5 separate regions of the Homo sapiens genome follow, and all the other regions are linked to region 5. Evidence: fine-mapped expression QTL. A gene starts in region 5. Each other region holds a variant in brackets. All regions are shown on one strand. Distances are between the middles of the regions.

Region 1 (5,970 bases), 86 kb after region 5:
TAATTCTTATTGTCCTCTCCACTTGACTCTGGTTCCCTTGGCCTCTCTTCCTTTCCCACGTCATCCCATTCACACTAACATTCATTCAACAAAGGTAGAGGGCCAACTGAGTACCAGATAACGGGCCAGATGCTGGAGATACAGAGATGACAAAACATGGCCCATGCTGAGAGGAGCTTATAGTTTTGCGATGCAGATAAGCATATAATTACAATTGTGGGAGCAAGAGGAGGGAGTGATTTACTGCCTAGGAGACCTGACTGTTCCTTGTGCTGAGCCAGGGGGCAAGGTTTGAGGGTTGAGGGGGGTATGAAAGATGCTGACATCCTCGGGGAATGGTTAAAGCACTGGGTGGGGCCCAGGAGAGTGTCACAGGTAGAATGAGAGGACAAGGCAGGGACCAGATCAGTTAGGACCTTAGTGTTGGAGCCTTTTAAACAGTGAATTCTGCCATTTCCTTTCAAGGATGGGTACTAATAGGCTGGGTCATATCTGTACTTTGGCTCAGACCTCTTACCTAAACTCTAGGACTAAACTTTCACATAGCTATATCCCACCATTTGTGGAGTTATTTATTTATTTATTTATTTATTTAGAGACAAGGTTTCTATCACTCAGACTGGAGTGCAGTGGCGCAGTCTTGGCTTACTGCAACCTCCACTTCCTGGGCTCAAGTCATCCTCCCACCTCAGCCTCCAGAGTAGCTGGGACTATAGGCATGCATCACCATGCCCAGCTGATTTTTTGTATTTTTTGTAGAGCCGGGGTCTCACGATGTTGCCCAGGCTCGAACTTGTGAGCTCAAGTGATCTGCCTGCCTCAGCCTTACAAAGTGCTAGGATTACAGGTGTGAGCCTCCATCCCCAGCCTATCCTACCATTTATGAACATCTTTTTTTTTTTTTTTTTTTTTTCTGGAGACGAGTCTTGCTCTGTTGCCCAGGCTGTAGTGCAGTGGCATGATCTCGGCTTACTGCACCCTCTGCCTCCCAGGTTCAAGCAATTCTCCTGCCTCAGCCTCCCAAGTAGCTGGGACAACAGGCGCACACCACCATGCCCAGCTAATTTTTTTTTAAATGTATTTTAGTAGAGATGGGGTTTCACTGTGTTGCCCAGGCTGGTCTCCGAATTCCCTTTTTTTTTTTTTTTTGAGACGGAGTCTTGCCCTGCACTCCAGGCTGGAGTGCAGTGGCTTGATCTCGGCTCACTGCAACCTCCGCCTCCCAGGTTCAAGCAATTCTTCTGCCTCAGCCTCCCGAGTAGCTGGGATTACAGGCTTGCGCCACCATGCCTGGCTAATTTTTGTATTTTCAGTAGAGACGGGGTTTCACCATGTTGGCCAGGCTGTTCTCAAACTCCTGACCTCAGGTGATCTGCCCGCCTCAGCCTCCCAAAGTGCTGGGATTACAGGCGTGAGCCAACGCACCCGGCCTTTTTTTTTTTTTTTTTTTTTTTTTTGAGACAGAGTCTTGCTCTATTGCTCAGGCTGGAGTGCAGTGGTGCGATCTCGGCTCACTGCAAGCTCTGCCTCCCGGGTTCACACCATTCTGTCTCAGTCTCCCGAGTAGCTGGGACTACAGACGCCCGCCACCACGCCCGGCTAATTTTTTGTATTTTTAGTAGAGATGGGGTTTCACCGTGTTAGCCAGGATGGTCTCGATCTCCTGACCTCGTGATCCGCCTGCCTTGGCCTCCCAAAGTGCTGGGATTACAGGCGTGAGCCACCGCGCCCGGCCTTTTTTTAAAAAAATGTGTTTATTTTCCTTGCGGAGCAGGGCTGCCCCATAAGCAGTGTGCCCAGAGTAGCCCAAATTCCCTAATTCTGTCCGCACTTACACCATCCAATCATACAAGCAGTTGTTAGATCGTTGTGTGCTACTGTTCCAGGGGCCGCTGGAGGTAGAAATTCCATTTCACTAAAATCTAGTCTGTCCTTTGCCCCCACTAGTTGAGTCCAGTTAGTGAGTGTGGAGGTGGGGGCTGGAGGTGTAGAAGAGATAAATAAATATATAGAGAGCCAGTCCAGCTGTCTGGAGGACATTGTCCGCCTCCTCCAATCCCATCAGTTGCCACATCTTCTTTGGTCAGGCTGGCTTTCTCACCTGGTCTCCTTTCTGTGCCCTCCTCACACTGGCTGCCAAAGTGATTCAGCCAGATAGACTGCAAGCCCCGTGAGTGCACGGACGGTGGGTGGTCCATAAACGTCTGATGAACTAATGATACAAGCTTGAATATAGTCTCCTAAAAAAATCTTTAGTTTCTCCTCTGCTTCTAGAATAAAAATCAGATCGCCCCATTTGGCCTTCAAGACCTACTACATTCAGCCACAGTCAGCTTCATTTCCCTTTTTTCCTTTCACTACCTCGAAGGCCAGATTAGCCAGTGATTCACTATGCTTGCCCCGGGCCACTTGTATCCTCTCACCTCCGTTCCAGGCAGCCCTCGCAGCAGATCCTAACGCTTAGGGCTCCTCCAAGTGTACAGGCTCGTGAGGCTTCCCTCCCGCTAAGAC[C/T]AGTGCGCCCTCAGCACACGCAGTGTGGTCTCGCCCGCCGCTCTGCGCTCGCCCTGCAGGAGAGGGAGCTCTTTGAAGGCAAGGCCGAACCTCCCCCGAGCCCTGAGCTGGGCCTGCCGCCACAGATGTGCAGTCCTGCCGGGGAGCAGTCACCCGGGGACAGGGCCGGGCCCCGGGCTGCACGTCGGGAAGAGACAGCGTGCTCCTGAGGTGGCCAGGCCGCTGCAACTGGCCAGGGCGGGCCCGGGCGGCGAGGGAAGGGGTGGGAAGCCCGGGCCGCGGCGCTTCCTGCTGGGACCCGGCGGCACGCCCCTGCCCCCGCCCCGGCCGAGCCTGCGCTGCCGGCCTCCGGCCCTGCCGGCCGCCCAATCAGCGGGCGCCCCCCGCGCGGCCCGCCCCTCCCCCTCTGGTGACAGAAAGTCGGCCCAGCAGATGAGGAAGTGGCAGGCAGGCAGGCTGGCCCCGGGGACTTCTCTCTGGCCCTGCTCCCTCCGAGCGCTCCGCCGTTGCCCGCCTGGCCCCTACGGGTGAGTCTGGACCTTCCACGGACTCTCCACGTGCCGGCGCCCCCTGCCTGGCCAGCCCGGCCCAGCCCGGCCCAGCCCTGCCCTGCCCTGCCCAGGCTGTGGGCGAGGGTGTTCCCGGGGCCAGTGGGTGGGAGGTCCCAGCTCCCTGGGGCCGGGCCTCGCCAGCACCCTCCCTCCCCCACACCCCCGTCTCTGGCCCCCATTTGCCTACACCCGGGCCTTCCTCCACCACCCCTGCATTTACCTCTCTCCCTCCTCCTCTCCCCTCCCTCCCCCCGCTACCCTAACTTTGCCAGGCACCTTTTCCCTTCCATCCATCTTAAAGGAAGGAAGGGACGGGCTGAGTTCCCCGACGAGAGACACACCCAGATTTTCCTGCAGCTTGGGGAGAGGTCCTCCCAGGAGCCTTGGTCCCTCCTGGCCTGCCGGGTGTGTGGGTTGATATTGGGGGCTGGTGGTTGAGAGATAACAGGCTGGCTGGCTCCCATGTGTCAGGGAGGAACCTGTGTTGGCGCCCTCGCCCCGGCCTGGGCCCTGCCGGCGATGGGCGGCCAGCAAGCCCGATGGTGGGGGAGCAAGTAAGGAGGGGATCCGAGCGTGGCCAGGCAGCGCGCACACGTGTGTGAGTGGCCCCGCGGGTGAGCCCGTGCGTGTGCCTGGGCGGTGGCCGAGCTGCGTGAGGGCCGGGAGCCATGCGTGTCAGCCCACGGAGGTGTTGCGTGGTGTGTCAGGCAGGAGACGTGTGTGCCAGCCCTCGGCGTGGCACCTTCGCTGTTGGGGGTGGAGAGCTAGGTGAGAGGTGGGTGTGGACCGCAGGCTTGGGGCCTGACCACGGTGGGCCTAAAGAAGCCGGGCCTCCTGGAGGTGAGGGGTGTGCGGGGCAGGGAGGTGTCAGAGGTGCGCCTCTTCACTTGGCATCTGCAGAGGTGCTTCTCTGGAAGCAGGGAGTCTGGGGCACCTGCTGCCCTGGGCCCTGCTCTGTTCCAAGAATGCCTTGTCCCTCAGGGACTGTCAGTACCATGCTCTCCTGGGTCTGGCCAGAGGCTTTTGTGTCCCTGGGAGCCTTCCCCCGACATTCCTTCAGGCCCTGAGGGGGAGGGGGCCTAGCCCAACGGGGCCCCTCCCTGAGGGAGGGGAAGATTCCTGCGACCTCCCCCACTCCCCAACCCCTTCACATGCCACTGGCTTCCCTGCCCTTCCCAGGAAGGGAAGAGTGATTGTACCCATTCTGAAGTAGGACAAACTGAGCAGTTATGGCCGGCTTAGGAGAGGATGCTGGGTGTGGATTTTCAGCAGTGCTTTGGGCCAGGGCTGGGGCTGGGGCTGGGGTCAGAGGAGGTTTCTGGCTCAGAATCTAGGACCTTAGCTCATCAGGCTGGTCCCACGTGGGTGGGTGGGTGGCGAGTCTGGGGCTTTACTTGGCTTTCCCAATCCTGGTGGGTCCTGCTCCCCCAGGCACTGACCTGTGGCCCGGACCCACCCTCCACCCCCTGCACAGTACAGCAGGGGCGGGCAGAGGGCGGGGCTGCTGCCAGATCTAGTCAGACAGGTGGAGCCGCCGGGGCAGGAGTCTCAAAGAGCCAGGCTCCAGGAGAGGAAGGGCTCTGCGAGAGGAGAGAGGAGAGCGCTGGAGAGGAGAGGCTGGAGGTGAGAGTCCCAGGAAAGGCAGAGGAGAATCGTAGGGACATAAGTGTCCCAGCACAGGCAAGGAGGAATCCGAGGATAAGGTTCTGGAGGGACAGAAGGGCCCAGAGAGGTGAGAGTCCTGGCAGGGACAGGAGGGACCCTGGGGAGAAGAGAGTTCAGGAAGGGTCCAGAGGGATGGGAAGAGGAGAGGGCAGGAGAGGAGAGATTGAAGGGGAGAATCCCTGGAGAGAAGAAAGACCCAGAGCTGGGGAGGTGAGGGACTCGGGTGAGGAAGGGAGACGGAGTTCAAGAGCTCCCTGTTGGTGAGAAGGTAAGATTCTCCAGTAAGAGACCTGGAATTGAGAGTTATCTTGTGGAGGAAGAGGGGAAGGGAGGCCAGGAAGTAAAACTGTGGAGAGGAGAGGAGAGTAAGGTGTGGAGAGGAAGGGTGGAACAGCTCTTCCCAGGCAAGCAGGATGTGTGGGGAGCAGATGCCTCAACCAAACTGCCTCCTCCCCCTAGTTCCCAGTAATTCCTTCCTTTCACTGTTCTGTCCTTTCTGCAATGAGGCATTGCAGGTGTCTTGTCTGGTTCTGTGTCTTATCTCTGTGGGATGGGGGTGTGCAGTGGGATCTGTCTGACATCCGCCCTCTGTACCTCCCCAGAGTCCTTAGCCAGGATGGAGGCTGTTGTGAACTTGTACCAAGAGGTGATGAAGCACGCAGGTAAGACGCTATCCACCAGCCCTTTCCTTCCTTCTTTCCCGGGATCCCTGGATCTACGGCTGTCTTCTAATGGAGAGTTCCTATGAAACCCTTGATCCTGTGACCTGACCTCATGTCTGTAGACCCTTCAAATGAAGACCCTTCGAACCCTGTGACTCTTCCTGATTCCTTTGACCCTTATTCATAGATCCCCGGATCCAGGGCTACCCTCTGATGGGGTCCCCCTTGCTAATGACCTCCATTCTCCTGACCTACGTGTACTTCGTTCTCTCACTTGGGCCTCGCATCATGGCTAATCGGAAGCCCTTCCAGCTCCGTGGCTTCATGATTGTCTACAACTTCTCACTGGTGGCACTCTCCCTCTACATTGTCTATGAGGTGGGCCCCTGGGATGCCGGGCTTTAATTTCTGTCAGCAGGATAAGGAGCAGGCCATAGAGCCAGAGCATGGCATTTCTCCTTTCCAGAGAGGTTCAGATCCATGTCCTCAGCTAGCGAAGGGGAGGGATGGCTGGGAAGGGAGAACTCTGGTGGTCTAATCCACATCCCTTCCCAGTTCCTGATGTCGGGCTGGCTGAGCAC
Region 2 (5,970 bases), 48 kb after region 5:
TTTCAAAGAATATTTAGTGACACACAAGAATGCCCATACTATATGTTAAAAAAATAAAAAAAAGGCAGGACAGGCTAAGCACAGCAGCTCATGCCTGTAATCCCAGTACTTTGGGAGGCTGAGGTGGGAGGATCACTTGAAGTCAAGAGTTTGAGACCAGCCTGGACAACATAACAAGATCCTGTCTCTACAAAAAAATTTAAAACAATTAGTCAGGTATGGTGGCATGCACCTGTAGTCCTAGCTACTTGGCAGGCTGAGGTGGGAGATCACTTAAGCCCAGAAGTTGAAGGTTACATTGAGCTATGATCATGCCTCTGCACTCCAGCCTGGGCAACAGAGTGAGACCCTGTCTCTTAAACAAAACAAAAAACAGGACATAAAATCACGTGTCTAGAATGAGCCTCTTGATTCTCCCTTTCTCTTTGGGTAAAGAGATGGAGGTGAGGGAGGATAAAGACACACTCACAAAATTAGAAGAAAGTTCCATAAAATGTTAGAATTTAAGCCAGGAGTGGTGGCTCACGCCTGTAATCCCAGCACTTTGGGAGGCCGAGGCGGGCAGATCACAAGGTCAGGAGATCAAGACCATCCTGGCCAACACTGTGAAACCCCGTCTCTACTAAAAATACAAAAAATTAGCCGGGCGTGGTGGCGGGCGCCTGTAGTCCCAGCTACTCGGGAGGCTGAGGCAGGAGAATCACCTGAACCCAGGAGGTGGAGGTTGCAGTGAACCCAGATCATGCCACTGCACTCCAGCCTGGGTAACAGAGCAAGATTCTGTCTCAAAAAAAAAAAAAAAAAAAAAAAGGTTAGAATTTAATACGATACCCAGAAACAACTACTGTTGTTTGCACAACTCCTGTTGTTTCTGGGTATTGTATTATAGATGAGTTTTGTTTTTTCTTTATATTTTAATGTATTTTTCAAATCTCTGTGGACATGTATTATATATGTGAATTAACTTTTTTCTTTTGAGACAGGTTCTCACTCTGTGGCCCAGGCTAGTCTCAAACTCCTGGCCTCAAATAATTCTTTCACCTCAGCCTCCCAAGTAGCTGGGATTACAGGCACGCACTGCTGTGCTGTGATTTAACAGGATATATCTTGTTTTTTTTTTTGGAGACAGAGTCTCACTCTGTTTCTCAGGTTGGAGTACAGTGGCGTGATCTTGGCTCATGGCAACCTCTGCCTCCCAGGTTCAAGCAATTTTCATGACTCGGCCTCCCAAGCAGCGGGGATTACAGATATGCACCATCACGCCCAGCTAATTTTTTTGTTGTTGTTGTTGTATTTTTAGTAGACAGGGTTTTGCCACATTGGCCAGGCTGGTCTCAAACGCTTGGCCTCATGTGATTCACCTGCCTTGGCTTCCCAAAGTGCTAGGATTACAGGCATGAGCCACTGCGCCCAGCCAGGATACATCTTGAGGGAGCCACAGAGAAAATGAAAAGGCTGGCTCAGGGCGGCCAAGTGGCCCTGGGGCTTAACTGATGAAATCCTCTCCTTCCCTATAGCTGCTGTCCTTATTCAGGCTTCCTCCTCTCTCCCATGCTACAATAATCTTCGCCTATTCTCCCATCCAGACTTTGTCCCCAAATCCATCCTCCATATTAGCCACAAAATACTGTGATCTTCCCAATGTAGACATGTGATCCTGTTACTGTCTGTTTAAAATTTTCAGTAGTTCTCCGCTACCTATGGCTAATTATTTTAATAGCTAACATTTGCACATTCTGTATGTGGCAAGCACAGTTCTAAGTGCTTGACATGTATTAATTCAATCACCATATGATATAAGCAATGTTAATATCCCCTTTGGAAAAAGGTCACAGATGCACAGAAAGGTTAAGTAACTTGCTCAAGGACACACAACCAGTAAGTGGTACTGCCAGGAAGCAAACACAGGCAATGTGATTCCAGATCCAGTGCTCTTATCCTCCACACTGAACTCCCCCATAGAATAAAGCACAAAGTCCTTAGTGTCACATTCATGGCCTTTCATAACCAGCTCCCACTTATGTCTACAGTCTCCTCTTTACCATCCCTTTCCACATTCAAATTTTACTCTGTTGACACTGAATAATATGTAGTTCCCTAAAACACCTGTGATTGAGAGTACAGGTTCATAGTACCATGTATTTGCTTTTGCTGGTCCCTCTGTCAGAAAAGTCCATTTCCCCTTCTTTGAATGGTTAACCTCAATTCTTTCTTCAAAACTCAGTTCAAATGCTGCTTTGGGCCAGGCACAGTAGCTCATGCCTGTAATCCCAGCACTTTGGGAGGCTGAGGCAGGTGGATCACTTGAGGTCAGAAGTTCGAGGGCAGCCTGGCCAACATGGTGAAACCCTGTCTCTACCAAAAAAAACAAAAAAAACAAAAATTAGCCGGGTGTGGTAGTGGGCACCTGTAATCCCAGCTACTTGAAAGGCTGAGGCAGGAGAATTGCTTGAACCCAGGAGGTGGAGGGTGCAGTGAGCCAAGGTTGCACCACTGCACTCTAGCCCGGGCAACAGAGCAAGACTCTGTCTCAAAAACATGAAAAACAAATGCTGCTTTGTCTGAAAGACTTCTCTATTGTGGCCCCATGCTTGGTTGGGTGCTCCCTCTTGGTGCTCCCATAGCACCTGAGTCATCTTATCGGTGCCCTTATCACATTCAACTACAATTACCTCCCTTTAATATTTATCTCCCCCACTAAAATCTCAACTCTTCACATCAGGAGAAAGACAAGGT[C/T]TGATTCATCTGTGTCTTCAGGACCTGCTCAGGCCTGGTATAGCTCAGGCTTCATTAAGTGTTTGCCAACCTGAACCAAGTTTTGAGTGATTACCTAACATCCATGCTCTCCCTGCCTTGGCTATCAGTGCCTGCAAAACCTGGCCCCCATCTGGGGATGCAGCCCACAACTGATAGTCCTAACGGCTATACTAGGAAAGCACTTTAAACTAGGGCAGAGGGCTGGCAATCCCTGCCCTGGGATCCAGGTATGCACCAATTTTGTTGCTGTATGTTTCAGACCCTTAGATCATGTTCCCAATATCTTATCTCTCAAATCCAGTTTGATAGCTAAGGTGACAATGCAGCCATCACGGACAGTTTCAGGGAAAGCCTTTACCAATGAGTTAAGGGTAGTTAAAAGCAGATGAGGGGAAACTGGGCCAATGCTTATCTAAGTCATAAACAGATATTCCAGTAACAGACTTGGCCATTCTCCAAAAGGAGTGTCTTGTGATAGCCTCCTTGAGTGCTGGATAAGCCCTGTAATTATCTGTGTGGTCAGCATTATAACCAACAGTTCACATGGCCCTCAAAAAAAAAATGACCCACACTGGGCACGGTGGCTCACGCCTGTAATCCTAGCACTTTGGGAGGCCGAGGCTGGCAGATCACCTGAGGTCGGGAGTTCAAGACCAGCCTGGCCAACATGGCAAAACCCCGTCTCTACTAAAAATAAATAAATAAATAAATAAGCTGGGCCTGGTGGTGAGTGCCTATCATCCCCGTTACTTGGGAGGCTGAGGCAGGAGAATCGCTTGAACCCAGGAGGCGGAGGTTGCAGTGAGCCAAGATTGTGCCATTGCACTCCAGCCTGGGCAAAAAGAGCGAAACTCCGTCTCAAAAAAAGACAACAACAAAAAATGACCCTCCTCTATCCTTGAAACCAATTACATTTCTGGGTTATGTGCTGTCTTTCAAAATCACAAAACTATTCCAAAAGACCATCTCCTGAGGGTACTAGCCAGAGCCAGCGCATCAGCAAACCATCCAACAGAACTAAAGGAGAAGAGGGGAATGGAGAAAACAGACATCCAGTGGTCAGAATCAAAGAGATTTACAGGAGCAGTGAAAAAGGCAGGTGTCCAATCAACACCAACTGACCCGAAGTCTATAGGAAAGCCCTTTAAGTCCAGAGGAACTGGTTCTTCTCAAGGAGAGAGAGACTCATGAGGATGACTAGAAAACAGGTTCAAGAAGCCAGCAGAGCTCGGGACTTTGGGGACAAACAGCAGAGACAGGATAAGGACTTGGTCAGAGGACTAATAGAAATTTGGTCTGAGGGTACAAACTTGGAGAGATGATGCAATACCTGGTGGGACTGCAGTCCAATGATGGAGGAGTAGGCCTGGATAGTTACATAGATCTCAGGCTGGAAGTCGATGCAAGATCCAGGCACTCGGAAGGGCCGAAGCAGCCCGCCTAAGCAGCGGGACAGGGCATGGAAAACTTCATCAAACAAGATCTCCCCTGTGGAATCATCCTGAGGGCAGAGAAAGAGCACTCAAGGGGGTCCAAAGGCAGCCCTAACCAGAGGGCAGAAACATGCAGCTTCCATGGGTCAGTAGGACACTTAACTTATGGATGATCGCACACCCAAATACAGTGCCACACATGGAACAGTTTCTGGGGTGTTTTTTGGAAACAAAAACAACAAAACCAGGGTCTTGCTTTGTTGCCCACGCTAGAGCGCAGTGGCCTGATCCCGGCTCACTGTAGCCTCGACCTCCTGGGCTCAAGCAATCCTCCCACCTCAGCCTCCCGAGTAGCTAGGACAGGTGCATGCCAGCATGCCTGGCTAATTTTTGTATTTTTTATAGAGAGGGAGTTTTGCCATGTGGCCCAGGCTAGTCTCGAACTCCTGAGCTCGAGTAATCAGCCCGCCTTGGCTTCCCAAAGCACTGGGATTGTAGGCATGAGTCACCACAGCTGGCCCAGTGCTCTTTTTAAACACCCATCATTCCTTTATAAGCCTGTCTTCTCTCCAAAATGGTAGGCTGGGACCATTTTTCACTTCCCCACAGGCCTCTCCCTCTCCTCACACCCCACCCCATCCTTTCTTCCCACAGTCTCCCTTCAATCCTTTACCACAATGCCAGTAGATGGGCTAAGGTCCAACTCAATGACAAACCGATACTGCCAAGCCAGGAAGGTGACCCGGGTGGAAGGTACCAGGAGGAATGGCCTTGGGACCACTGGTTCATCTGGCTGCCACCCAGGGGGCAGGACACTGAGGACTTCCAATTCCTGTTCAGACTGAAGCTGAAAATTAGGATGGAAAGAAAAGGAAAGGATCAGCGAAGTATCCCTTTCTTCCCAGGACCTGCCTTCTATATCCCAAATGACACATCATTGGCTCTACCTCCCTCAATCTAACCGTATACTCTTCCTCTCACTCTCTGGAAAAATTATTTTTTAAAATTTCCATCATCTTGTAGGCAGTCCCTTGCCCTAACCAGACTTAAGAGTTAGTCTCCCACCCTGTCTGTTTCTAGCACTCTCCTAAAAAACAGATCCTTCTGGGCTGGCCCCTCACACCTTTCGTGTGTCTAAGCCTCACCAGCATCTCCTGGGGTGTGGCCTGCACAGTTTGGTGCAGATGACTGAGGAACCAAGCCAGGCGAACATTTCGGGAGATTCGATAATCCTTTTTCATTAACAGGAACACCTGCCCAGCTTCTTCCACCTGGGAACAAAGAGACATTAATACATCTTTAAAAAATGGCACCGAGTACCTGGAACACACAGATCACTGTCCAAATAATTTGCCCAAGGAACTCACCATCAATGAGAGGGAAAACAGCAGAAGTGAAAAGTTTACCCCAACCTCCATGCAAGGTGTTCCCAGGGAGTCAATTCTCAACTCTCTGTTCCTGTTTGCCCGATACAGACCTCCATATAGATGAAGTGACCTTTCCATATTGTTTCCACAAAGTTTATGTGAGTTTCACCTATAAACTATAAGCTTTTGAGGGCAGGGGCTGTGTCTGATTCTACTTTTGTGCCCCTGTGCTTGGCAAATTGCTACAAACAGAGCAAATACCAGGACAAGTCCCTAATACATTACACGAATGCCAGACAGTTACTCCTAACAAGTCTTGACAACAGCAGGCACCGAAGAAATTTTCACCGAAGGAATAGCAAGCCTTCCAAATACCTCAAAATCAAACCTCTGTGGGTCACAGTCCCCACCCC
Region 3 (5,970 bases), 140 kb after region 5:
TCCAGGCTGGAGTGCAGTGGCGTGATATTGGCTCACTGCAACCTCTGCCATCCGGGTTCAAGCAGTTCTCCTGCCTCAGCCTCCCTAGTAGCTGGGATTACAGGCTCCTGCCACTGTGCCTGGCTAATTTTTGTAGCTTTAGTAGAGATGGGGTTTCACCAACTGGGCAGGCTGGTCTTGAACTCCTGACCTCATGATCCACCCGCCTCAGCCTCCCAAAGTGCTGGGATTACAGGCATGAGCCACCACGCCCGGCCTCTGAATGGATTTTTCAAAGGCATAGCAGAGACACTAGGCTTTCTATCACAAGGATCAGCCCTTGAGAGAGAAGAGGGTTTTCTTTCTTTTTTTATTTTTTATTTGAAATGCCAAAGCTTAGCTCTAAATATCAAGAGTCCAGGCCTGGAAGGCCAAGGACAGAGTTCAGATCCTAAGTGACGACAATGAAGAAGCCCTCAGAGGAGACAGGACCTGCGGATGGGCGGCTAGAATGTGACAGGATAAAGTGACAGTGGGTGCCCTCCCACACCCCACCTCTAAGCAGGGGCCTGAGGGACAGAAGGGTGTGGGCTACAGGAGGACAGACAACTCGGGCAGGATTACAGGGAAGCCAGGAGGAGTGGAGGTTTGTGCTTCCTCTTTCAAGGAGCAGGCCAGCACAATTCTGGAGTGGTAGAAACAGTTGTCTAAGTGGGAAGGGGTTGTGGCAGCGGTCTGAGGGCCACAGAATATGCCTCCTTCCATAAGGTATAAGGAAGCCCCTACAGTTCTTTAGTTCTGTTTCTTTTTCTTTTTTAATTTTTTGAGACAGGGTCTTGCTCTATTGCCCAGGCTGGAGTGCAGTGGCAACATCTCGGCTCACTGCAACCTCCGCCTCCCGGGTTTAAGCAATTCTCCTGCCTCAGCCTCCCGAGTAGCTGGGATTACAGGCATGCACCACCACGCCTGGCTAATTTTTGTATTTTTAGTAGAGACAAGGTTTCACCATGTTGGCCAGGCTGGTCTCAAACTCCTGACCTCAGGCGATCCACCCGCCTCAGCCTCCCAAAATGCTAGGATTACAGGTGCAAGTCACTGTGCCCAGCCCCTTTCTTAAGTCTCCAAAAGGAGGCCCTGGGATTTGCAAGAATGAAGGTTAGGATGAGGAGCTCACAGCATGACTGGCCTACTGGCAGGTGGCCACAGCAGGGCTAAGAACATCAGCCAAAGATGTGTGCAGACAGAGGCTGGCTCCCGAGCCCAGGAAGGCCTGCAAGGACAAAAGCCAGCATGAACCCCAAGTGCCCTTCCATTTGATCACCTTGCTATCTAGGCCTAGATAACCGCTAGGGAGAAATAAAAGAGGGGAGAGGAAAATCTCCAATTGACGGAGCCCAAAACTGGAATGTCCATTGTGAAATATGGTCATCACGGAATTCTTTTGAAATGGGAATATTAAATATTTCACCACTAATATAAATGGGCTCATGAGCTGAATTCAGTTTTAGAGAAATAAAGAAAATTATATTTTGTACCCTTGAACATTGTTGAGTGTAATCTTATACCTGCAACATAAACACACACACACACACACACACAAGGTGTACAAGGTATTGTGTGTACACAGGTAGAAACATAAACACGGGCTGCAAGCATGCACCCAGGGGCGGGGCGGGTCACTGACCGAGCCTGACTGGTAGGTGAAGGTGCGTCTCCGATGCAGGCAGCTTCTGCGGATGCACACCAGGGTTAAAAGGGCAGCCAGGATGGTGAGGCAGGTGGCAGACACGGAGCCCACCACCGCCAGGATCAGCTGCTGATCCAGGCCCTCTTCAGCTGCCCGGCTCTCTTGGACTGGGCCCTCAGCCTGCAGCCCTGGACACAGTGAGAGGGGCAGATTGTGGGGACACCTGGGTCAGGGAACCCAGAGGCCACCATGGGGTTACACAGAGGGAGAGGTGAAAGATCCCAGTGCCAGGACTGTCAGGAAATCACTTGGGCCACATGAAGGAAGGGATGAGGGGTGTCAGAGGGGCGACATGATTTTCCCAGCCCTGGGACAGTGGATCATGAGAATGGAAGGCTGAGTCCCCAGGACTGGGGCTGACTCTTTGTCAGGAGGGGCCTGGGATGCCCTAGCTCCACAGTAGGGGGTGATGTGGAAGGAGAGCGTGCTGAGCTCTCCCCGCTCAGAGCCCGGGGGGTCCTGTGGGCCCTGCCCTCTCACCGTTGCCCAGGGTGGACTCTTCTACTGTGTTGCTCCAGTCCCCGAGCCCCTGAATGCTGGCCCGCATGCGGAAGAGGTAGCGCGTGCTGGCGTTGAGGCCACGGATGATGGTGCTTGTCTCCTCAGGCCTGTCCACGTCTATCCACAGTGGGTCTCCTGCACCCCCAGCCACCTGCACCTCCACAACGTACTTGGATATTGGCCCAGGCAGAGCCTCCGGGTGCTTCCATGTCAGCTGGATCTCGGAGTCTGAGAGGGCCTGGGCGTGGAGGTGTCGGGGGGCTGGAGGCCCTGGGGAGATGGTGGGGGAAGGCAAGGCTCAGATAGGACCGGGCTATGTAGCTGTGGGGCTGGACACATCTGCTCTAGCTGTGCTCCCTCCTCTGTGGGTCCAAGCACAGGGGCCACCCTGCCAACTTCCTCCTCCCCACCAGACTGAATTCCTCTCCATTCCCCCAGGCCACTTTCACCCTCAAGCTTCTGCTTCTCCTTGTACTTCTTGTATCCCAAGTCCTCTCCACATCCGCCCATGCCCTGTGTTCCGCAAGTCTCATGCCCTCCCATGACCCTGGTTCTCGCCATGAACCCTGACCTCCCCATGCTCTCCCCACATGCTCCTGGTGATCTGTGTCCTCCTGGTACCCTGGATCTTCCCCAAGTCCCATGTCCCCGCTGGGGTCACGTCTGCCTAATACCCTATGTGTGTCCTGTGTCCTCTCCATGTCCATTAATCTCCTACAGCCTCCCGTGTCTCCTAGGTCTCATGTGTCCCTGTGTCCCACGTCCTCCCCCAACCCCCAGCTATCCTTGCGCCTTGCACATACCACTGGGGGGCAGAAGCACGTGTGCAGGGGGCGAGGCCGGGCCCAGGAGGGTGCAGTGGTAGAGCTGCACATCCAGCTGGTAGTGGGTGCCAGGCGTGAGTCCCGTCAGGAGGGCAGTGCGGGCCTGGGGGGATGAGACGTTCTCCCGCCGCTCCTGCCCCCGTGTCCCGTCCCACAGGCGCAGCAGGAAACCGTCGCCCACCAGTGGCCCGGGCACCAAGGGCAAGGACCAGCTCACTCGCAGCCGGTCAGTGCCTTCCACATGCCAGCCCTCCAACCACGGCTGCAACAAAGGCTCTGGGGCCAGAGGTCAGGGGTCAGAACTGTCCAGTAGGTACTTGGGGCTGGACAGGACAATGATCCCCAGTGAACAAGGAAGAACAACCTCCAGTGGGAAAGGCAGGGGTCCCTGGGGTC[G/A]ACGGGAAAGTAACCCTTGGGGGGACAGGAAGGGATGACTCTTGGCCTCTCACCAGGACAGTCTGTGGTCATGAGGGTGGGAGGCCCCCAGGCCCCCTCTCCTCCTTCCCCTGGCCGGCTCAGCTGCACACGAACACTGTATCCTGTCTTTGGCCTCAGGTTCATTAACGTCACGTTCTCACTGGGGTCCACTGGGCGTGGGGTGTAAAGCACACATTATTCAGCCCCCACCTCTTCTAGAAGCTGCCATGCTCCCTTCAGCCCCCTCGCACCATTTGCCCTCCCTCTCCTGCTCACTGTATCCCTTCACTATTACCCAACACCTCTGTCCTGCCCCAGCTCTCTCCCTACTCACCCACAATGGTCGACCAGTCCATGGTACTGTCCTGGGGCCGGTAGTGCAGGCGGACAGTGGAGATGGGTCCATCCCCAGAGAACGAGACCAGCGGGGAGACCACAAGCTGGCGGCTCTGCTTGGTCAGGAGCCGAGGTGCAGCCAGGGGCACGGGGGGCACTGCCAGGAGACTCAGGGTAAGGCATGGGCACACAGCCTATCCAGTCCACTTCTGCATCTTTGTTTCAAGCTGGGGACCCTCTGGGCTTGAGGGACACCAAGTTCAACAGATGACCATAGTGGCCAGGGCCCAGGGAGGACAGAGTTCAGGCCCCTGGGTAGCTTGGGGCACAAGGATTAAGCAATAAAGGCATGAGGGTGTCCCAAAAGATGGTAGATGAGGAAGTGACATGGCCAGACATGGTTTGGGGGTGCACTCTTCCCATGCAGTGTGGGGGTAGACAGAAGGGGCCGAAACCCAGGTCAGGGAGACTACCTGGGCATCATCCTGCTCTCTGCCCCTGCCCTCATTCACCACTCTCTTATTAAAAAAAAAAAATGGCACTGGCACTGAAGCACCTGCTCCCCGCCACACGCTTCATAGCATGACCTCTAATTCTCACAGCCACCTTTCTGTCAGGGCACATTACCCTGCATTATGAAAACACTGAGACTCAGAGACACCGAATAACTTGCCTAAGGACACACAACTAGAAGGAGATACAGCCATGTGTTGAACTAGGTCTGTCTGCGCAGGCCGCCTCAGATCTATCCATTCTACTCCAAAACAGCCTTCTTGTTCCTGCCCCACTTCCTCACCCCATGATCGCTGCTCCTATTCTGGCCTCAACTTTTTCTCTCCAGATTATTGCATTAGTGCTTTTAACAGGTTCCCTTGACTCTTACAAATGTTTACCAGATTGGCTTTTTGAGAGGAAAGGAAGGAAGGAAAGAGGGAGGGAGCGAGGGAGGAAAAGGATGCCGCGCTGTAAGCTGAGGGAGTGTCAGGCAGCAATGAGCATGTCAGGAGGGCAGTGCTGATTTGCGGGGAGATGAAGGTCCATTTTGGGTGCAGAGAAGCCCTTGGTGCCTTTGGCTCACGCAGGGGATTAGATGTCCAGGAAGTGGCTGGATATAAAATGGGCCTCCGAATCATACAGCAGCTACTTTCCACACCAACTTCAAAACCAGACTTCCAGAGTAGATGCCCCACTTCATGGAGTCCCCACCAAATGATCTGGAGTCAGAAGAGGGGTCCTGGCTGCAGATCATATGTGAGAGCTGCCAGAGAACTATCAAAATCTAGGGACTAGGTGACATTTTAAATAATAACAATAATTATCGACATACATTGAGCACACACCCTGTATCGGGCACTGTGCTAAATGCTTAAATACATCATCAAATTTAATCTTTGTAACAACCCCATCAAGTGCTAGCTATCCCCATTTCACAAAGAGAGAAACAAAGTAAGAGAGGTTAAGTAGTTTCCTTAAGGTGATGGGGCAAGGAATTTGTGGAGAGAGGATTCAAGCCCAGGTTGTCTGGCTCCTAAGCCTGGGCACAGTGAGAAGAGAAAGGCGGAAGGTGAGGCTTGATGGCAGAGAGTCATGCATAGTCACGGGATAGGGAGATGGCGAGGACCTGGGAGGCAGAGTGTGGCAACGAGAAAGCAGAAGGTGAGAGAGGGGGCTTACATGGGGTGGCAGGAGCAGAGGGACAGCAGGGTCAGGGGGTGGCAGGGGTGTGAATGGTTAAGACTTAGGGTGCTGGAGAAGCTGGAGAAGGCGAAGGAGGCCTTAGAGCAGGTGGGGGTGCTCTGGTCTGAGTAATCTTGGGCACTGGGAGGTCCCTCCTTATTTACCTGGAAGATTTCTAGGCATGCACCACTTCTAGGAAGCCAAGCTGGTCACCCTCTGAGCTCCATAGCCCCATATGCTCCCCTGGGCTAGCACTGAGTGTCTGTGGGGTGACTCAGAGATGGGAGGCAGCATCCCAGAGCAGAGTTAAAGGTATACTTGTCTGTGTGTGACGGTTGGTGGGGGACAGCATGGCTGGGCAGGAGGAAGGGCGGGGCTGGAGAGTGTCCCCAGTTTCTGGGGCACGGGATGTCCTTTCCAGATGGGTCTAAGCTGTACTCCAGCCTTGACACTGCCCAGCCCGGACCTCTGGTTGACCACAACCCCGCT
Region 4 (5,970 bases), 72 kb after region 5:
TGATGGACACAAGATCAAATAAGGCTATGCTTATTTTGTGCTGCCAGAAACTGTAGCAACCTCTGTGTTCTTAGAGGCACACTGTTTTTGCAGGCCCTCCTGCCTGGGTTTCATTCTGGCTATCCCTCTAAGGCGCAAGGTGAAGAAGCTTCTGGGCCAGGAAGGAAAAAAAAATGCCCACCTGCAGCTCTGGTGAAGCTTGGGCCTGCTCTCCTTTCCATCCTCTAAGGAGCCAACTTGGCTTTTACCTGTCAAATAGTCATAAAGTCCCCTATCCTTTACCCCACCTTATACACACGAGGCTTTCTCAGGAAGTGGCTCTGCCAGGCAGGACTATGTGGGAAAGGGTTTTTCCTTAGCACACGAAAAAGCCCCTTCCCCTGGATTCATGTTTCTTATTTTGGAGGGAGAAGGGAATTGCACTTCACACTGCCATCAGGGTTTAGTTGACCTCATAATGGTGCCCACTTTCTCGACTTTGGCCAGGATTTCCTTCAAAGAAAACGACTTTCCTTCATTTCCCTAAGCCTGTGGCCCAAATGGTGGACCAGAATGATGGTGGGAGGGGGCAACCCCCAGTAGCTTTGCCTGCTTTTATAAAGTTGAACAAATTGAATTTAGACATTCAGGCTAACCTGCCTTTCTTAGTACTCCTTTGTTGGCATGGGCAGGGGTTGAGTCAGCAGAAGTGGACCAAAGGATTCCTCTGAATAAAGTTATTTAAATTGATGTTCACTGGCTCAGGGTTGTCTGACAGTAATTTATGAGAGCACTACATAGGGATCAGAGGGGCAGTTTCAAGAGTGCTGCAAGGCAGTTCTAATTTGTTCTCCATAAAAAAGTTTCCGTATCTTTAATTAGCTTTGATCTAAAAATCCTGAAACTTCCCTCCTGCTCATACCTTCCAGCTGCCTTTTTTCTGTTCTGTCACACACTGGTACTTTGGCATTTGTTCAGTGCCAAACAAAGTTCTGCCAGGCTGTGGCAGCAAAGGACTGGAAAAGTGGTCCCAGATGTCACATCTGTTACCATTCCATCAAGGTGAGGAATGGTATCCACAAAGCTCACTGACCACAATACATAGCAGTAGGGGAGTCTGGTCACCAGCTCTAAGGCAATGCCAGACCTTTCCCCCACTTAAACTGTTCCGGCTCATCAGCCCACTCAGGTGTTATCTTCTCACCTCTTCCCTTCCCACTGGAAATGTCAGTATTAACTGGCATATTGGGTAGAGTTTGAGCTGTGCTTCTCTGAAATTCCTGGAGCATCTTTTGGTGACTATTGTCCTTTACTCCACCAAAAGATTCCCTCCTATTGAATGGCACCAACCCCAAGTTTTTTTGTGTCCCAGGCAAATACTGACTTCATCCCCACCATACTATTAAAATGGATTCCTTGTCATCCAAGAATGGAAATATCCTCTTGCCCCAACAGGAACATATGCAGGATGTCACCTACATCTTGTTCCCCTAAGCAAACACTCCTTCCTCTAGAGGGACTCCTCTACATTCATCACCGTAGGAGCACATGCTGTCGTTTTTATCCCCCATCCTCAAATCATCTGGAGTACACAAATCTCAGTAGTGTCTCCCACTTTGGGGTCCATACAGCCTATTAAATGCCTCAATAGAGAGTATGTATCTCCCACCCCTAACATACTCATTCCCTCAGGAGGGAATACATATACAGTTTTCCTTTGAAGAAGGGGACATGACCTATTTACTGGCTCAGATTTAGGATTTGCAAAAGGTGACTATTGGCCTACTCTGGTAACATTCCTCTGTTTTTGACTGTCCTGTTTTGCTTGGAGATCGTGCTTTCTCCTATTCTTGGGTCCCCTGGAGAAAGAGATTAGGCCATTGTCTCCTAGGTTTGTGTCTAGGATGGAGAAAGAAGCAGCAGCTGTGAAACGTCAAGAGCTTACTACAGGACAGAGTTCATCCTGCTGAAGGCGGAAGCTTATCCAATCAATGTCAGCATAAGGCCCATTGCCTAGGATCTCTCCCTCTCCAGCTCTGCCCTGAGCCTGGGATTCAGTCATTGCTGAACCTCTCTTTTGCTCATTGTGCCAGTCACCCCATTCTGTTCCCCTTCTGGTGTTTATTGCTGCCCTACTTAGCTGGTGTACCTCATTCAACCCTGTCGTTTTTTGGGAAACAGCCAAGATAGATAGGTTGTAGCCAAGTGCTCCTTAGAACTCCATAATGGGTCCCAGCATTAGGATTGAGCTGGAGGGGGTGTAATTGCCCACCTCCTGTTGTGCTGCCACAGAGAAGAAGCTGAACTCTGCAGGAATGCCCCAGTGCAAGGCTGGTCCCTTTTCCCACCCCCCTCTCACCTCCCCCAGGCAGCTGGAAACAACCTCTCCCTTTGTCTGAGCTTCTTGTACAGAATAATCCTCCTTATGGACAATGTATTCTCTGTGCCCTGTGGACACAGGAGCTGTGTAAGCTGATCCCAGCACCAGGCAGGACGGAGGCTGAGTCCTTCCAAACGCCCACCCTGGGTCAGCTCCTGATTACTGTCCAGATGAACTACGAAGGAGTGTACATTCTCTTCCATCTGCCTTTCCTATCTGCTCCAGAATTAGGGGAATAGCCTACTGAAGTTTAGCATTGGGCCAGGAGTAGGAACAGGGGATGTGGTCCTTTTCTGTTCAGTCTTGAGGGTTCACAGTGCCTGCTTATGGAGGCTCGATGTGGCTCTTGCCTGGAAACCTCAAACACATGGGGACTAACCCTTGGAAAGGGCTTGCCACTGTGCAGATGGGGCTTTATGATTGGAACAGAAGGCAAACTCCAACGCATCTGATGGGACCATGGTGCCCCATCACTTCAGCATGTGTTTTGTCCCACAAGACAAAGTTCCTTTCTTCTTCCCTTTAACTTCTCTTTTTTTTTGAGCTCCATGTGTCACTGAGGCAGCTCTTGGGTTCCTGTTGTGGTCTCTCAATGAGTCACATGCCATTTGGACATGGCAGCTTCCCTAAGTACATCGTGGACAAGGCATCTCACTTCCCTAAGCCTCAGTTTTCTCACTTGGTGATCCCAGTGATCCTTTTTAGGTCTAAAGTCTGTGGCAATGATTTTCAAACCCATTTATCCCCAGGCATTTTGTTTTGTTTTGTTTTCCTTGGTGCATGACTGTTACATAAATAGGCCAAAATTTTCCTAGATAAGCCCCCAAGTCCCTCAGACTCCTATAAACTGTTCCTGAAGTTCCCTCGCTGTCACCTACACCTTAACATACCAACACCCTTGTAGACCACAACCTTGAAACTGTT[T/C]TCTAAAACATCTTTCTCTAAGTGAAGATTCATCAAAGAGATGGTAAGTTACCACAAAGTTATCACAAGTTACAAGTTCTGACATACCTTGTGTGTTAGAAGTCGCCCTCCCCCTCACACATCTCTCTCTCCTTGGGCAAGATACATGTACCAAAGAGACTCCTCCAGTATAGGCAATAAATTATACTTCTTCCACATGAAGATAACCTTTCCTACTGAATCAAATATAAGTGCCTTGGGATGCTCGTCTTCCTATGTTTTCTCTGCCATTCCACTGCTTTCCCTAATTCTCACCCTAATTTCCCTAGTTTGTGGTCATTTTGATTCTTCATCTTTTCTTGCCCACATTCCCTACGTAGATATCCTTTGTTCATTTTTTTTTTTTTTTTTGAGACAGGGTCTCACTCTGTCATCCAGGCTTGAGTGCAGTGGCACAATCACCTCTCACTGTGATCCTGCAACTCAGGTGGTCCTCTAGGCTCAAGTGATCCTCCCACCTCTCAGCCTCCCAAGTAGCTGGGACCACAGGCATGTGCCACCATGCCCAGCTAATTTTTAAATTATTATTATTTTTAATGGAGACAGGGTCTCTATGTTGCCCTGGCTGGTCTCAAACTCCTGAGCTCAAGCGATCCTCCCACCTCAGCCTCCCAAAGTGCTGGGATTACAGGTGTGAGCCACCACACCCAGTCTATCCTTCATTCTTTTTGCCAGTTTCTCTGGGCTACATTTCATGGCCTTAGATAGTGCCATTTTAGTGTCTCTTCCATGTTAAAAGATCCTTCTTAACCCTACATCCCCTCTCACTGACTCACTCGCGCCATGCTCTTGAAACAAAGTGCTTAGAATCACTGTTTCTTTTACCTCCCATTCACTTTTCAACCCCTGTGTTTGGGCTTCTACTTCCACCACTCCTCAGAAACTCAGAGATCACTGTTGACCTAATGGCTAAATCCAGAGTTTTTTCAATCCTCATAGTAATGTATCTGCAGCATTTAATGCTGACCATTTCCTTTAGTCTCTTTCTCCCCCATGGCTTCTATGGCACATGCTCTCCTTGTTCATCCTCCTCTCTGGCCATTCCTTCTCTGCAGCTTTTGGACTTTTATACTTCTTCCTGCTTCTTAAATGTTATTCTCTAGGACTTGTCCTTAACCCCCTTTTCTTCTTCTTCTACCTGCTTTCTGTGACCACCACTTTTATGTGCATAATTTAAGCGAGTTTTATTTTCAGCTCAGACCTCTTTGCTGAGCTGCAGATTCCTGATGGATATCTCTACCTGTATGATCCACAGCTGGTTGAATGTCCAAATCCAGTTATTCTAGCCTACACACCTGTTTCTCTTCTAAGCCAGGAATATGGAAACCATTCTAAATTATTCTCCCTCTGGGTCCCCAACCCCCTCATACCTAATCAGATACTAAATCCTACCAATTCTGTCTCCCCAGTGTCCATCCACCCTGTCCTACAGTTTAGGCTCTAGGCCTCTCTTACTAAAAGTATTGTTCAGACTCCATATCTCTAGCCATGCCCACTCTAACTCATCTTCCAAAAGGCTACAGATAGGTCTTTCTAAATTGCAGATCTGATCACATTACTCCCCTGATTAAAATCCTTTATCTCCAGTCCTGCCCACTTTAACTTGTCTTCCAAAAGGCTGCCAGATAGGTCTTTCTGAACTGCAGATCTGATCACATTATTCCGTTGATTAAAAGCCTTTTGATAGTTTACTCCCCATGTAGGGTGGGTGTGCCAGACATACTGAAAATCACAAGATAAAATCTTCCTGGAATGTTCATTTTAAGGGTAATTTAAAACAGAATACACATTTAACATGTATTGTTATTTTATTATTTTGAGACATGGTCTGTCTCACTGTTACCCAGACTAGAGTGCAGTGGCGCGATCTTGGCTCACTGCAACCTCCGCCTCTCAGGCTCAAGCGATCCTCCCACTTCAGCCTCCCAAGTAGCTGGGACTACAGACACTCGCTACCATACCTGGCTAATTTTTGTATTTTTGGTAGAGATGGGGGCATATGGACAACATACCTGGTGGGTGGGTTGGTAGGGGTGGGTGTGCCAGGCATACTGAAAATTACAAGGTAAAATCATCCTGGAATGTTCATTTTACTTAAGAGTAATTTAAAACAGAGAACACACATTTAGCATGCATTATTATTTTATTTTGAGACACGGTCTCACTGCGTCATACAGGTTAGAGTGCAGTGGTGCGATCTTGGCTCACTGCAACCTCCATCTCCCAGCTCAAGTGATCCTCCCACCTCAGCCCCCAAGTGGCTGTGACTACAGGCGTGCGCCACCATACCAGGCTAATTTTTTAATTTTTGGTAGAGATTGCTTTTGCCACATTGCCCAAGCTGGTCTCAAACTCCTGAGCTCAAGTGATCCTCCTGCCTCAGCCTCCCAACATGCTGGGATTATAGGCATGAGCCACCACACCCAGCCAGCATGCATGCATTATTAAGAAAAAATAGTCTTCAAAGAATTCCTACTAGTCTGAACAGCTTCAGACTAAGCCACCAGATTCCCTAGGGATATTTATTTACTCTTTTTGGCCATTACATTTACTTCATTGGAAAAACTTAAAAAATAGCTCAGATTTTCTGGAAAGGCAAGTAAGATTCTGTGTGATGCAGCCCCCTGCCTCCTTCTTATTGTCATGCC
Region 5 (5,000 bases):
ACATCACTTTACTTCTTTCCTGGTACACTTGTGCAAAACTTTCTTCAGGGGATACACCTGGGAAAGGAACTGTCAGATCATAGGCATATTAGCTTTAAGAGACAATGCCAAATTGTTTTCCAAGGAGGTTATAGTGATTTACACTCCTGTTGGCAGTTGTTCCAAATCCTATCCAATATTTGATAATGTGTTTTTTATTTTTGCCAATGTGGAAGGCATAAAATAGAATTTCATTGAGGTTTTGATTTGCATTTCACATGAGTTGTAATATGTTTTACTGCATTGCCAAATGTTATCCAATGATCAAATGAGACTCTGAACTCTGTACTAAAGTTTTTGCCATTATCCATGCAACTATTTACAAGTTGTTGTTACTTTAAAATCACACCTGTGCAAATTATTTGGTTAAAAGTCAAATACGTACCTGTGAAGTGTGCACAATAAAGCAAAAAAAAAAGGCAAATGCAAAGAATCAAAACTTGTGATAACTTAGTGTCATGCCTGTGTTGCAAGGTGGGATAAGACATAGTCAAAGGTGAATAAAGCAAATAATTTTCATGGACATTGCACTCCTTATATATTTATTTGAGCATATTATGTGAAGGTGGAAGGTGTTGTAAGGGAATTAAGGGGAAAGTGAGTCACCTATGTCTAGTTTATGTATAATCTTTACTGCCCTAAGGCATGTCCAAGGAAAAAAGGGGTGGACAATCGGGAGTTGGACACATTTTGTTTCTGACGCAGAGCTCAGCAGCTGTCAACATCATAAATAGAATTTGCATACTCGGAGATCAACAGTGAGGTGGTAATAAAGGAATTACTTCCTCTAGATGTTACTCTTTGTTGTCAATTTTGGATTGCAAACACACTAAAGTTGGGACTGATTACAATGTTAAGCTTAGTGAGGTCTTGATTGGACGAGAAACACGTTCCAAGACAAGGCAAAGGTCCTAGTGTAAAACCAGCTGCAAAAGAGCATGAAATCAGGTGATCAGTGTCAGCTGGCAGCAGTCTGTTCTTGGAGGCAGAGCTGAAGAAACAGAACCTGCCAAGAATTTGGGTTCACCACGGGATCAGGCTGGATCCCTGGTGTCTGAGCTGGCCTCATTTGAGATGGAGTTGAGTGTTGACAGAACAATCAGTGGGAGCTGGGTGTTCCTAATGTTGCACTTTAAGCTTCTCTGTCAAAGTTAGCACAGACGATAGATCAAGATGACGTTTACTCATGAATTGTTGGGATATAAATTTATATTTTTCAAAGGAAATTTAAGATATCAACAACTTAAATATGTTCCTATTTTTGACCATGTAATTCTACCCATAAGAACCTGCCCAATCAGTTGGGTTATTGTAGATGAAAGTAAAATCATTCAAATTATCTCAAGAAACATTAAGAGGCTATACAGAGACAGAAACCCAGGAAAGTCTAAGCATCCCAGCCTTAAGTGCACAGACCTGGGGGCAGCTATGGGTTTGGGCACCCTTGGGATGACATGGGTTTCTCAGGGTGCTACCTCTATTCACAGGACTTGGTTCCCCTCCTTTCCGCTCTAGCTTTTCTTTACCATAGGACTGTCTTATTTCGTTTCTACAGCCCAGTCACCTTCTGGCAACACCACCTGTTGACTCTCAGCATTTCCTTGTTTGAACTCTTGATTGGTTAAATTACCTTTCCAAACGACGCAAGTAAGAGGTTTTTGGCCAGTCTATGGATTGGCTGCCCTGGGATCAGATGACCTCCCTGGTCCAATCAGCTGAGGCTAAGGCTAAAAAGGGACAGCTCACCCATAGCTGCTCCAATGGGGCGGTTTCCCTTGCAAAAGACTAGCGGCGTGAACGGGCAAACACTGTGATGGACATCTCTAGAAAAAGACTCGGAAAAGAGTCAGAGATAGGGACTAAGAAGTGCCTGAAAGTGCGCTTGCAGCGCGCGTGCACACACACGATATCCAACCACAAAGTACAATAATGACTTGCTGCTTAGGTGTGCGACAATGAGCAGCGAAGGCACTGACTTTGAAGGCTATTGGAAAACACGAGGAAATGCTCACAAAATAATATTCCATGAAAAAGAGCTATAAAACAGCATATACCGAATGATCAGAATTTCCAAAGAAAAAAATTGCATATTTTAAAATTTGGACGGGAAAGCCAACAGGCTAGTGGTGTGATAACTGGCGGTATAAAAGTGCTTCTTTATTTGGTCATACAGCTTTCAAATGTTGCTTAACGAACAGATAGCATTTTTATAATCAGAGGAAAGACTCAGTATTAAAGTGCGCGTCCCATCATTGCAACCGGGCCCTCGGGCAGCCAGCTCTCTCTTGCTTCGCGTCCGGCTCTCAGGCCCTGGAGCTCGGCCTCCCTACCTTCTCCAGGCGCGGGTCCTGCTCCTTTTCCGGCCGCCCTCGCTCCGCCCCTTCGCCTCTCCCCGTGATCCCTCTCTCGCTAACCGTAGGCGCTTTTCGTGAAGGCCCGGGTTTTTACAGCACTTCGCTTTTCTAACCACGAACAGTGCTCGTTCGTTCGCAGGGCCAGCAAGGAGAGCCCCGCCCCCGCCCGCCGCCCGCCGCCCGCCGCCCGCCGCCTTTGGATCCCGCGGACTCCGCCCGGCCCGGCCTCCCCAGGCATGGCGCCGCTGCGCTTCTCCGCCAATCTGTCCTGGCTATTCCCCGAGCTCTCCGGCCTCCCCGCGCGGGTGCGGGCCGCGGGCAGCTCGGGCTTCGAGGCCGTCGAGGTGGCCTGGCCGTACGCGGAGACGCCTGAGGCGCTGGCGCGCGCCGCGCGAGAAGCGGGGCTGCGGCTTGTACTGATCAACACGCCCCCGGGTGCGTCGCGGGCCGGGAGGGCTGGGAGGGCTGGGGGGTGCCGGGGCGCGGGCAGGGGAGTGTCCGAGCCGGGGGCTGAGGCCCGTTCTCTCTGCAGGAGACCAAGAGAAGGGGGAAATGGGGCTGGGGGCCGTCCCCGGGAGACAGGCGGCCTTCCGAGAGGGACTGGAGCAGGCCGTGCGGTATGCCAAAGCCCTGGGCTGTCCCAGGTACCCCGCTCCACCCCACCCCCACCCCTGTGACCCATGACCCTGATGCAGGTTCAGGGAGTCGAGGACGCCAGATCTGAGACGCTCAGAAGTCTGAGCCCACTGGTTTATCTCTGCCTCTGCGGTCCTGGTCCTTTGTAAATTGCCTTTTGTATTTTATCTGTCTTATGCCACTCTGTTTGCCACTCTTTCATGCTCACCCCATGCTGGGATCCCATGCTGGGAGCTCAGTCTGCCTAGGCAGATAGGAGAGTAAATATATACAGTGATGCATTTGAGGACAGGCCTATTCCAGGAAGCTGTGGGAGCAGGGTAGGCACCTAACCCTGTCTGGATCAGAGAAAGCTGCTTACAGGTAGTGATGCTTGGACTGTCTTCAAGGAGTGGGCATTGCTTGATGGGCAGGAAGTTGAGTGTTCCTTGCAAGGGTGCTGTGGCAAGAGGAGGCCTGGTGTATTTGGCAGCGTTCCTGAGGCTGGACATGTATGTAGCCTGTTGGGATGGGGAGGCCTGGAATGTCTGCTTGGAGCTGGATGTGGCTAAGATCAGGGGATGATGGGAGGAGGTGGACGGCTCAAAGTGGGGCTGATTCAAATGTCAAATCCTGCAGAGGCCAAACAGGCTCAGAAGGAACTGGCAAGAGGGGATCACTACTGGTCAATGGTGGGGGCAGAAAACAGATGGGAAAAGGCTAAGTAGATGCGAGGAGAGGAAGTAGAGACAGCAGCATGGAATACCTGAGAAGGGCAAGCAAAGGTCAGGACAATTTTTAAAGGTGAGAATTTAGCAGGTTACAGGTTGCGGAGAAGGACCGAGGGAAGGAAAGGTTTTGGAAAGTACTGGAGGCAGGAGGCGGTGGGTGGACACTGAGATGTCTGGGAAAGGGCTTGCCCCTCAGCCATCACTGAAGTGTCTCTGAAAGTGCTGGGATACCTGGGCATCGTGACCCAGGTGCCATGGACTGGAGACCTGGGGAGACGGACGAGGGCTGGCACAGTCAGGGAATCCTGGAAGAGGTGCAGAGAGAGCCAAGGGAGGCAAGGCCTCCAGTCCATCTTCCCCACAGGATCCACCTGATGGCTGGCCGAGTACCCCAGGGAGCTGATCGAATAGCAGTCAAGGCTGAGATGGAGGCCGTTTTTCTGGAGAACCTGAGGCATGCAGCTGGGGTTTTGGCTCAGGTGAGAAAGGTGGAAACACACACGTACTTACATGTCTCTGTGGGTGTGCGGAGAAGGGGGTGCACAGTGGGGACAGCACGTGAGGCTGCCAGCCTAGGTCAGAGGAACAGGTGAGGGCCTTGACCAGTGACTGACTGATGGGGGACAAACTTGGGAAGGAGCTCTATTCACAGCACCCGACATGCTGCTAGGAGGACCTCGTGGGACTGCTGGAGCCCATCAACACCCGCATCACTGACCCCCAGTACTTCCTGGACACGCCCCAGCAGGGTACGACCCCAGCCCTGTCTCTCCTTCTGTCCCTTTTGATTCCTGTGCTCTTGAGGCTCACGGTCCCCTCCCTGGCTTCTCTTACAGCGGCAGCCATCTTACAGAAGGTAGGAAGACCCAACCTCCAATTACAAATGGTAAGTGGAAGGGGGTACTTCGCAGATCGGAAGGAGGGCGGGGCCTGCGGGGTCTCGGAATGTAGTATCCTCTTCCCTAGGACATATTCCACTGGCAGATCATGGATGGGAACCTGACAGGAAACATCCGGGAGTTCCTGCCCATTGTTGGTGAGAGGACCTTCCTTTGCCCTCCCACCCTTTCAATCCCCACATCTGTCCTTCAGGCCCTGGCAGGAGCCTGGACCCCACATTTGTCCACATCTGTCCCCAGGGCATGTGCAGGTGGCACAGGTCCCAGGCCGAGGGGAGCCCAGCAGCCCCGGAGAGCTGAATTTCCCCTATCTGTTTCAACTGCTGGAAGATGAAGGCTACAAAGGCTTCGTGGGCTGTGAG

What was found. PIP is the estimated chance that this variant, and not a neighbour inherited with it, causes the effect.
Region 1: its variant is fine-mapped to the expression of HYI in whole blood (INTERVAL, PIP above 0.99).
Region 2: its variant is fine-mapped to the expression of HYI in whole blood (TOPMed, PIP above 0.99).
Region 3: its variant is fine-mapped to the expression of HYI in whole blood (TOPMed, PIP 0.90).
Region 4: its variant is fine-mapped to the expression of HYI in whole blood (TOPMed, PIP above 0.99).

What each region holds. Positions count from the first base shown.
Region 1 is chr1:43,364,983-43,370,952 of GRCh38, reverse strand. It overlaps ELOVL1 (ELOVL fatty acid elongase 1), which reads left to right and starts at 2,942. Exons shown (of 8, transcript NM_022821.4): 1 at 2,942-3,038; 2 at 5,330-5,389; 3 at 5,577-5,767; 4 at 5,945-5,970. The coding sequence starts at 5,344. It overlaps LOC112268225 (a long non-coding RNA gene), which reads right to left and starts at 2,741. Exons shown (of 2, transcript XR_007066049.1): 1 at 1-2,741. RefSeq lists silencers at 1,488-1,673, 2,613-3,292, 4,553-4,642 and enhancers at 2,093-2,172, 2,766-3,500, 3,501-4,235. The variant C/T (reference allele first, on the strand shown) is at 2,512.
Region 2 is chr1:43,402,668-43,408,637 of GRCh38, reverse strand. SZT2 (SZT2 subunit of KICSTOR complex) reads right to left here. Exons shown (of 72, transcript NM_001365999.1): 2 at 5,336-5,461; 3 at 4,864-5,037; 4 at 4,088-4,258. Among named protein-coding and RNA genes, the nearest start is that of SZT2, 16 kb to the right of the region's middle. The variant C/T (reference allele first, on the strand shown) is at 2,737.
Region 3 is chr1:43,309,662-43,315,631 of GRCh38, reverse strand. TIE1 (tyrosine kinase with immunoglobulin like and EGF like domains 1) reads right to left here. Exons shown (of 23, transcript NM_005424.5): 10 at 3,803-3,961; 11 at 3,501-3,638; 12 at 3,031-3,327; 13 at 2,207-2,497; 14 at 1,664-1,854. Among named protein-coding and RNA genes, the nearest start is that of TIE1, 12 kb to the right of the region's middle. The variant G/A (reference allele first, on the strand shown) is at 3,448.
Region 4 is chr1:43,378,676-43,384,645 of GRCh38, reverse strand. MED8 (mediator complex subunit 8) reads left to right here. Exons shown (of 7, transcript NM_201542.5): 7 at 1-729. LOC112268225 (a long non-coding RNA gene) reads right to left here. Exons shown (of 2, transcript XR_007066049.1): 2 at 5,447-5,970. Among named protein-coding and RNA genes, the nearest start is that of MED8-AS1, 3.4 kb to the left of the region's middle. The variant T/C (reference allele first, on the strand shown) is at 3,284.
Region 5 is chr1:43,451,423-43,456,422 of GRCh38, reverse strand. It overlaps HYI (hydroxypyruvate isomerase (putative)), which reads left to right and starts at 2,492. Exons shown (of 8, transcript NM_001190880.3): 1 at 2,492-2,828; 2 at 2,926-3,037; 3 at 4,104-4,218; 4 at 4,410-4,488; 5 at 4,576-4,625; 6 at 4,706-4,775; 7 at 4,879-5,000. The coding sequence starts at 2,630. It overlaps SZT2 (SZT2 subunit of KICSTOR complex), which reads right to left. Exons shown (of 72, transcript NM_001365999.1): 72 at 2,176-5,000. HYI-AS1 (HYI antisense RNA 1) reads right to left here and starts at 2,496. Exons shown (of 2, transcript NR_174945.1): 1 at 2,370-2,496. RefSeq lists silencers at 2,456-2,755, 2,866-2,925 and enhancers at 3,716-4,602, 4,603-5,000.